2 linked regions of the Homo sapiens genome follow. The protein of the gene in region 1 purifies or fractionates together with the protein of each later gene. This does not show direct contact. Each region holds a gene or a part of one and is shown on either strand. Other genes may lie near its edges.

Region 1 (3,816 bases):
TCCACCCGCACACCCCTACTCAGTACTTCATCAGCTCAGTGTCCACTCGGGTCCATTTGGTGGTGATGTGGAAATAGACAATGCCGGCTTTAGAACAAGCCTGTGTACTGTTGGGGTTGGGACCAAAGAGGCACATGGACACAGTGGCTGCAGCTGAGTAAAGAGGAGTCCAGAAAGGGTCAAGCAAGACTTCCCCAGGGCTGCCAAGTAGGGGAAACCCAGAATATCTATGGGGGCAGAGAGGGGATTGAGCAAGACATGCAGGCGGTACAAAGAGACAAAAAACAGTGGCCAGTGTGGAGCTTTAGGGAGAGAGATGTTCCGGAGTCTTGGGTGGGGGATCTACAGGGGTACCAGCCTGTAAAACGATCAGGGGCTCCATAGGAACTGTTGTGATTGGAATTACCTGCAGCTCAGACAGGAGCCCACCTAGTGTGGCCAAAGCCTGGGACTTTTTTGTTTTGTTTTGTTTTATTTTGTTTTGTTTGTTTTTTGAGACAGGGTTTCAGTCTGTAGCCCAGGCTGGAGTGCAGTGGGGTGAACTTGACTCACTGCAGCCTCGACCTCCTGGGCTCAATCAATCCTTCCACTTCAGCTTCCTGAGTAGCTGGGACTACAGGGGCACATGACCACGCCTGGTTCATTTTGTATTTTTTGTAGAGATGGGATTTCACCATGTTGCCCAGGCTGGTTTCAAACTCCTGGCCTCAAGCGATCTGCCTCCCTTGGTCTTCCAAAGTGCTGGGATTACAGGCGTGAACCACCGTGCCTGGACAGCCTGGGACCTTTGAGAAAAATTTGCTGGGGCCGAGGACTGAAATAAAAGATCACTGTTGGGTCATGGATACTCAGTGCTGGGCTGGGCTCAGGGCCCCCCTGACCAGACTGCCCCCAACAAATTGCCTATATGGTTGCTCCTAAAAATGTTCCGTTTCTCATAGTCGATGTTCTCTAGTTAACTGGAGTGTGCCCTTTTCTTCATGAGCCTTCTGGAGTCCCCTTTCCCTTTTTCTGGACTACCCCAATTTCTGGACAGCCCATTTCCAGAATCTTCTCTCCTTAAGCCCTGCTCAGGCACCACTCCAGTGGAAAAGACCAGAAATTTATTTCCCCATCCAATAGTCCCACTTGCAGGATAGGTGGAAAGAAAGTATGAAAAAACCTCTCTCTCCCAGAATAAACTACAGTGTTTACTCCTGTTTAATTTTTAATTTTTCTTGCCACATCTGAACATGATGAGGAAAAATGTCTGTGTGTTGAGATTGAAGTGACTCAGTAGAAGCATGAGGGGCTGTAGCAGGAGAGAAAAATCCTCCTACTCCAGGGAAAAGGGTCTTCTGGTGAGGGCTGGCAGGGTCGCGTGGCTTTGTGACCCATGCATGAGCTCCCAACTGTGCTAATAACCCATGGCTGACTTTGCCTGTGTCTAGAGGGAGCGGCTTCCACAACAGCAAGCTCACCTACCAACAGCAATATGGCAGTGTTCATCGGCTCCCACAAGAGGTGAGTCATGTGGTTCTTTCTCCTGCCCCTACCTGGGGTCCCTCCTAAGGGGAAGCCAAGCCTGGGAACTCCTGCCTGTCACCAAATGCCAGCACCTGTTCTAGCCAGAGTCAAGGCCCCAAGCCCACCCTCCATCTCTCTCCTGCCCCCATCACTGCAATCCACCATCTCCCCACTCTAGCTCTCACCAGAAAACCGCTCTGCAGAACTCTTCTCAGTGAGCATCATTCTCCCAGTCAATCAGTCAACCTTGCATTGGTGGCCTAATGGGTGCCAGGGGGAGATAAGATACCACCCTCTGTGGTGCAAGACATCAAGGGACACAGAACAGGAAGGGTGATTTACCAGCCTGGAGCTAGCATTAGCAGGAACAGAGGCAGGAAACACAACCTGTATTTGGTGACCTCTGGCGCTTCTGTTGAGCTGAGATGTACTTTGGGCAAAGAGGGTCCCAGAAGGTGATGTTAGAAAGGAAGATGGGCCCCGTGCAAAACCAGCCAAGGTGACTGTTGGAGGACCCCTTGAGGTTGAACCAAGGAGGAGGTTTACAGGAATCTTCAGAGTGGGGCTGCCCGGCCCAGGGTCACAGGCTTTGGCTGGTGGCTCACAGGGTCAGGGGATGGGAGTGACATGGCCTGGGGATGCCCAGGGCTCTGACCACTGCATCCCCTTCCCCAGGAACCACTACATGCTCCTGGTATTTGTGAAGGTGCCCATCTTGCTCATCTTGGTCACTGCCATCCTCTGGTTGAAGGGGTCTCAGAGGGTCCCTGAGGAGCCAGGGGAACAGCCTATCTACATGAACTTCTCCGAACCTCTGACTAAAGACATGGCCACTTAGAGAGATGGATCTGCAGAGCCTTCCTGCCCTGGCCACGTTTCCAGAAGAGACTCGGGCTGTGGAAGGAACATCTACGAGTCCTCGGGATGCAGTGACTGAGATAGGGGCCCTGGGCCTCCGCCCTGGCCTTGGAGCTGGTGGGCACCTCCCTGTTCTGCACAGCTCAGGGACTTAGCCAGGTCCTCTCCTGAGCCACCATCACCTCCTGGGGTGCCAGCACCTGTTCTCTTGGTCAGGAGCTGTAGAGATGGAGCTCAAGCACTGGACGACTCTGTCCCCACTGCTGGAATAACTCGGGCACAGAGCATGGGACCAAAGTACAGAAAGAGGTTGGGGGAGACCCCCCCAGCCCTAGACTTCCATCATTCCGGAGACCAACTCAACACCGTCTTTGCCTGAGAACCTGATATATCCGTGTTTTTAAATTTTTTTTTTTCTAGCAAAGTTGGGTTTTAATGACTTATGTTCATAGGAAACCTCTCTGATCCCACACACAAGGAGGGTGATTCTGGGATGAGTTCCTGGTTCTAGGGCATGAGGGGCTGGATGGACCCTGTCCCCAGGGAGGACATGGCTCTGAGTCCACAGGGCTGAGGAGGCAATGGGAACCTCCCTGGCCCGGCCCGGTGCTTGTCCTCCCCCTCCCACCTCTTCCTCCTCCTAGCTCCCCAAGCTCCCTGCCTATTCCCCCACCTCCGAGGGGCTGCAGCTTGGGAGCCTCCTCAGCATGACAGCTTGGGTCTCCTCCCCAAAAGAGCCTGTCAGGCCTCAAGAACCACCTCCAGGTGGGGAGGGCAGTAACGAAAACCATCGCAGGAAATGGCACCCTCCCTTTTCGGTGATGTTGAAATCATGTTACTAATGAAAACTGTCCTAGGGAAGTGGTTCTGTCTCCTCACAGGCTTCACCCACGGCGATGAGGCCCTTGAATGTGGTCACTTTGTGCTGTATGGTTGAGGGACCCTCACACCAAAGGGACCTTCCCATGTGAGATGTGCTCCCGCCCCCACCTGCCCACAAGCAAACACACCACACATGTTCGGCATGTTGCCCTTTGAACACCCATGAGGACGCCTCCAACCTGCTCTTGGTTCTAATAGGGAGTACTGACTGTCAGCAGTGGATAAAGGAGAGGGGACCCTCTGGTCCCTAGCATGGCACCCAGAGCCTCCCCTCTTCTTGTCCTTCAGCCAAAGAGAAACTTTCTCTGACTTTGAACTGAATTTAGGTCTCTGGCCAATGATGGGCCTGAAAATTCCATAATGGCCAGAGAGGAGAGTTCGAGCCCGGCTAAGATCCCCTGAGTCATTCTGTGAGGGACCAAGACCCACAGTCCACCAGCCCCAGGGCCCTACCTCCTGGAATGCTTTCCTGGATCCAGCTTCCCGAAGATCCGACCAGACCCAGGGAGGACGGCACCGCTCCGCGGGAGGGAAAGCCAAAGCATGGTGCTTCACCAGCTGGACTCAGGG
Region 2 (3,816 bases), on another chromosome or scaffold:
TTTCGCTCTTGTCCGCCAGGCTGGAGTGCAATGGCACGATCTTGGCTCACTGCAACCTCTGCTTCTTGAGTTCAAGCGATTCTCCTGCCTCAGCCTCCCGAGTAGCTGGGATTACAGGCATGTGCCACCATGCCTGGCTACTTTTTGTATTTTTAGTAGAGGTGGGGTTTCACCATGTTGGCCAGGCTGGTCTTGAACTCCTGACCTCAAGTGATCCGCATGCCTCAGCCTCCCAAAGTCCTAGAATTACAGGCGTGAGCCACCACACCTGGCCAGCCCTTTAATTTTTTTAAAAGTCAGGTTTATGGAGGTATAATTTACACAGAGTAAAATTAAACTTTGTTAGTGTACAGTTCTATGAATTTTGACAAAAGCATACAGTTGTGTAACTACCACCACAGGCAACACATAAACCCTCTCTACAAAGAACTACAACTTCTTGTAGTTCACTCCCTCTCCTCACCCTTCTCTGGCAGCTGCTGATATGTTTTCTGTCATTATAGTTTTGCCTTTTCCAACATGTCATAAAATGGAATCATATATATAATATATAACCTTTTGAAAAGTCTGGCTTCTTCCACTTAGTATTATGCATTTAGAATTCAACCAAGTTGCATGTATCAGTAGTTCATTCCTTTTTATTGCTGAGTAGAATTCCACTGTGGATATATATACACAGTTTGCTTATTCTTCTATTGATGGACACTTGAGTAATTTTCAGTCTGAGACAATATGAAGAAAGCTACTCTATACATTAAGGTACAGATTTTTGTATGGACATATGTTTGCATTTCTCTTGGGTAAAGTCAATATCAAAGAGTAGGATTTACTGTGTTATGTCGTATGTGTTTAACTTTGTAAGTTATGTGCCAAACTATTTTCCAAAGTGTATCATTCTGCTTTTCCAACAGCAATGGATGAGAGCTTCAACTGCCCCACACCCTTCCCTGCACAGTATTGTCAGTTTCCTTCATTCTAATAGGTACATGCTGGTGTCTCATTGTGGTTTTAACTTATATATCTCCCTAATGACTAATGATGTTGACAATCTTTTCATGTGCTTATTTGCCATGTATGTAACTTCTTTGAAGTGGCTTTTCAAACCTTTTGCCCATTTTTAAAGTAGGATTGTTTTTGTTTTTAGTTGGGAAGTTTCTTTATATATTCTGGATAGAAGTTCTGTTTTTTGTTTTTGTTTTTGTTTTTTTTGAGACAGGGTCTCACTCTGTCACCCAGACTAGAGTCAGGCTAGAGTGCAGTGGCATGATCTTGGCTCACTGAAACCTCCACCTCCTGGGCTCAAGGGATTCTCCCACCCTGTCTCCAGAGTAGCTGGGACCACAGGCATGCGCCACCACATCTGGCTAATGTATGTATTTTTTGTAGAGACAGGGTTTTGCCATGTTGCCCAGGCTGGTCTTGGAACACCTGGGTTCAAGCAATCCGCCCACCTGGGCCTCCCAGAGTGCTGAGATGGATTACAGGCATGATAAGTCCTTTATCGGATATGTTTTGCATATATTCTCTCAAACTACAACTTGTCTTTTTTCAACAGTACTTTTCAAATAATAGACATTTTCAACTTTGATTAACCTAATTTATCAATTTTTGTTTGTTTGTTTGTTTTTGAGACGGAGGCTTGCTCTGTCGCCTGGGCTGGAGTGCAGTGGTGCCATCTCGGCTCACTGCAAGCTCCACCTCTCAGGCTCACGCCATTCTCCTGCCTCAGCCTCCCGAGTAGCTGGGACTACAGGCGCCCACCACCACGCCAGGCTAATTTTTTTTTGTATTTTTAGTAGAGATGGGGTTTCACCATGTTAGCCAGGATGGTCTCGACCTCCCGATCTTGGGATCCGCCCACCTCGGCCTCCCAAAGTGCTGGGATTACAGGCGTGAGCCACCGCGCCCGGCCTAATTTATCAATTTTTAGATGATTAGTTCTTTTTGTGTTCCAAGATATACACCTTATCCAAGGCCACAAAGATTTTCTCCTGTGTTCTCTAGAAGTCTTATAGTTTTAAATTTTACATTTATGTCTGTAATCCATTTTCCATTTTGAGTTAAATTTTTTCTAATAAGGGGTATGCATTGAGGTTCATCTTTTTTTTTTTGAGGCGGAGTCTGGCTCTGTCTCCCAGGCTGGAGTGCAGTGGCGCAATCTCAGCTCACTGCAACCCCTCGCCTCCGGGGTTCAAGCAATTCTCCTGCCTCAGCTTCCCTAGTAGCTGGGATTACAGGCACCCACCACTATGCCCAGCTAATTTTTGTATTTTTAGTAGAGACAGGGTTTCACCATATTGGCCAGGCTGGTCTCAAACTGCTGACCTCATGATCTGCCCGCCTCGGCCTCCCAAAGTGCTTGATTACAGGCGTGAGCCACCGTGCCTGGCCGAGGTTCATCTGTTCATCTTTTTCACAGAGATGTCTTTTTTTTTTTTTTTTTGAGACAAAGTCTTGCTCTTGTCCCCCAGGTTGGAGTGCAGTGGCGTGATCTCAGCTCACTGCAACCTCCACCTCCCAGGTTCAAGCGATTCTCCTGCCTTAGTCCCCCGAGTAGCTGGGATTACAGGCGCCTGCCACCAAGCCTGGCTACTTTTGGTATTTTTAGTAGAGACAGGGTTTCACCATGTTGGCCAGGCTGGTCTCAAACCCCTGACCTCAGGTGATCCATCCGCCTTGGCCTCCCAAAGTGCTGGGATTACAGGCGTGAACCACCACTCCTGGCCAGAGCTGTCTTAATTGTTCCAGCACCATTCGTTTAAAAGTCCTTTGGTTTTCTTTTTTCTTCTGTTTTTCATCTTTGTCTCTTTTTTTTTTCTTTCTTTCTTTCTATATTTCCTGGGAGATTTTCTCAAGTACTGTCTGGTATATTTCATTTTCACTTCTACTTTCTTATTTTTAATTTCAGGAACTTTTTTCTTCTTCCTTTACTGTTCCTTTTTTACAGACAATACCCTGTACGGCTTTCATGGTCATAATATCCTCATCATTTGGAGGATATTTTTCTTCTTCTCTCTGCTCAGTCTCTGTTTCATGTGAGGCGTGTTTTATCCATATATTTCAGTGTCTACTTTTTTGTGATGACTGTTTCTCAGATGTCTGTAATCCTTGCTTGGCCACTCATATTTAAGAGTGAGTGACTAAAAAGTTGAGTGGAAGCTGTAAACACATGAGTGGGGCTTGTCTATTCTGACCTTAACTATATATCTTTAGTGGTCTATGTCAGCATCCTGAGAACTTTCCTCCCGGTCTGGCCAGATTTTGCAGAGAGGGATCCTCTAAACTCCTGCCTAGATGGTGGAGGTCTGACTCAGTGTTCTGGAATCTAGGTGGAGGAAAGGGTGAGGGAGGTCTCAGGACCCAGAATACCTGCTTCCACTTAATGCTTCTGTTTTCATTATGGCATCCCCTCCCTTAACTGTGGTCCTTATCCATTTGAGCATTTCTCATGCCTAACCTGGCAGGCATTGTTAACTGAGTAAATGAACTGTGTAGTTTGTTATTTGTTGCAAAGAAACTTTTGATCATTCACTCTCAATATGTAAATATCTATTTAGAAATTGCATACTTTACTGTTTTATTAAATATATTATGTACATTGTAAAGCAAATAAAAAAGTAATAAAGGCTGAGATAAAAATGAAATAATGCTTTCCTGTGCTTGTGTGTGCTGGCTTCATATTTTTATTAGCCAATATCTCAAGGCACAATATACACTTAGAAAAAAAACACATCATTAGTCAACGTAGAGATAAATATGTGTTTCAAGTAGTTCTGAGAGGTTTTTTGTTTTTTTAATTATTATTTTTTAAATTTT

What was found.
Region 2: the proteins of CD300LB (region 1) and DDX19B purify together in Homo sapiens (affinity purification with mass spectrometry; one large-scale study listed by BioGRID and IntAct). This does not show direct contact.

Annotation. Positions count from the first base shown.
Region 1 is NC_000017.11:74,521,266-74,525,081, reverse strand, and holds part of CD300LB (CMRF35-like molecule 7 precursor), read left to right. Parts: intron 1-1,430; coding exon 1,431-1,503; intron 1,504-2,181; coding exon 2,182-2,344; 3' UTR 2,345-3,572; coding exon of another isoform or gene 3,573-3,648; 3' UTR 3,649-3,816. UniProt on the Homo sapiens protein: Acts as an activating immune receptor through its interaction with ITAM-bearing adapter TYROBP, and also independently by recruitment of GRB2.
Region 2 is NC_000016.10:70,301,947-70,305,762, forward strand, and holds part of DDX19B (ATP-dependent RNA helicase DDX19B), read left to right. Parts: intron 1-3,816. UniProt on the Homo sapiens protein: ATP-dependent RNA helicase involved in mRNA export from the nucleus.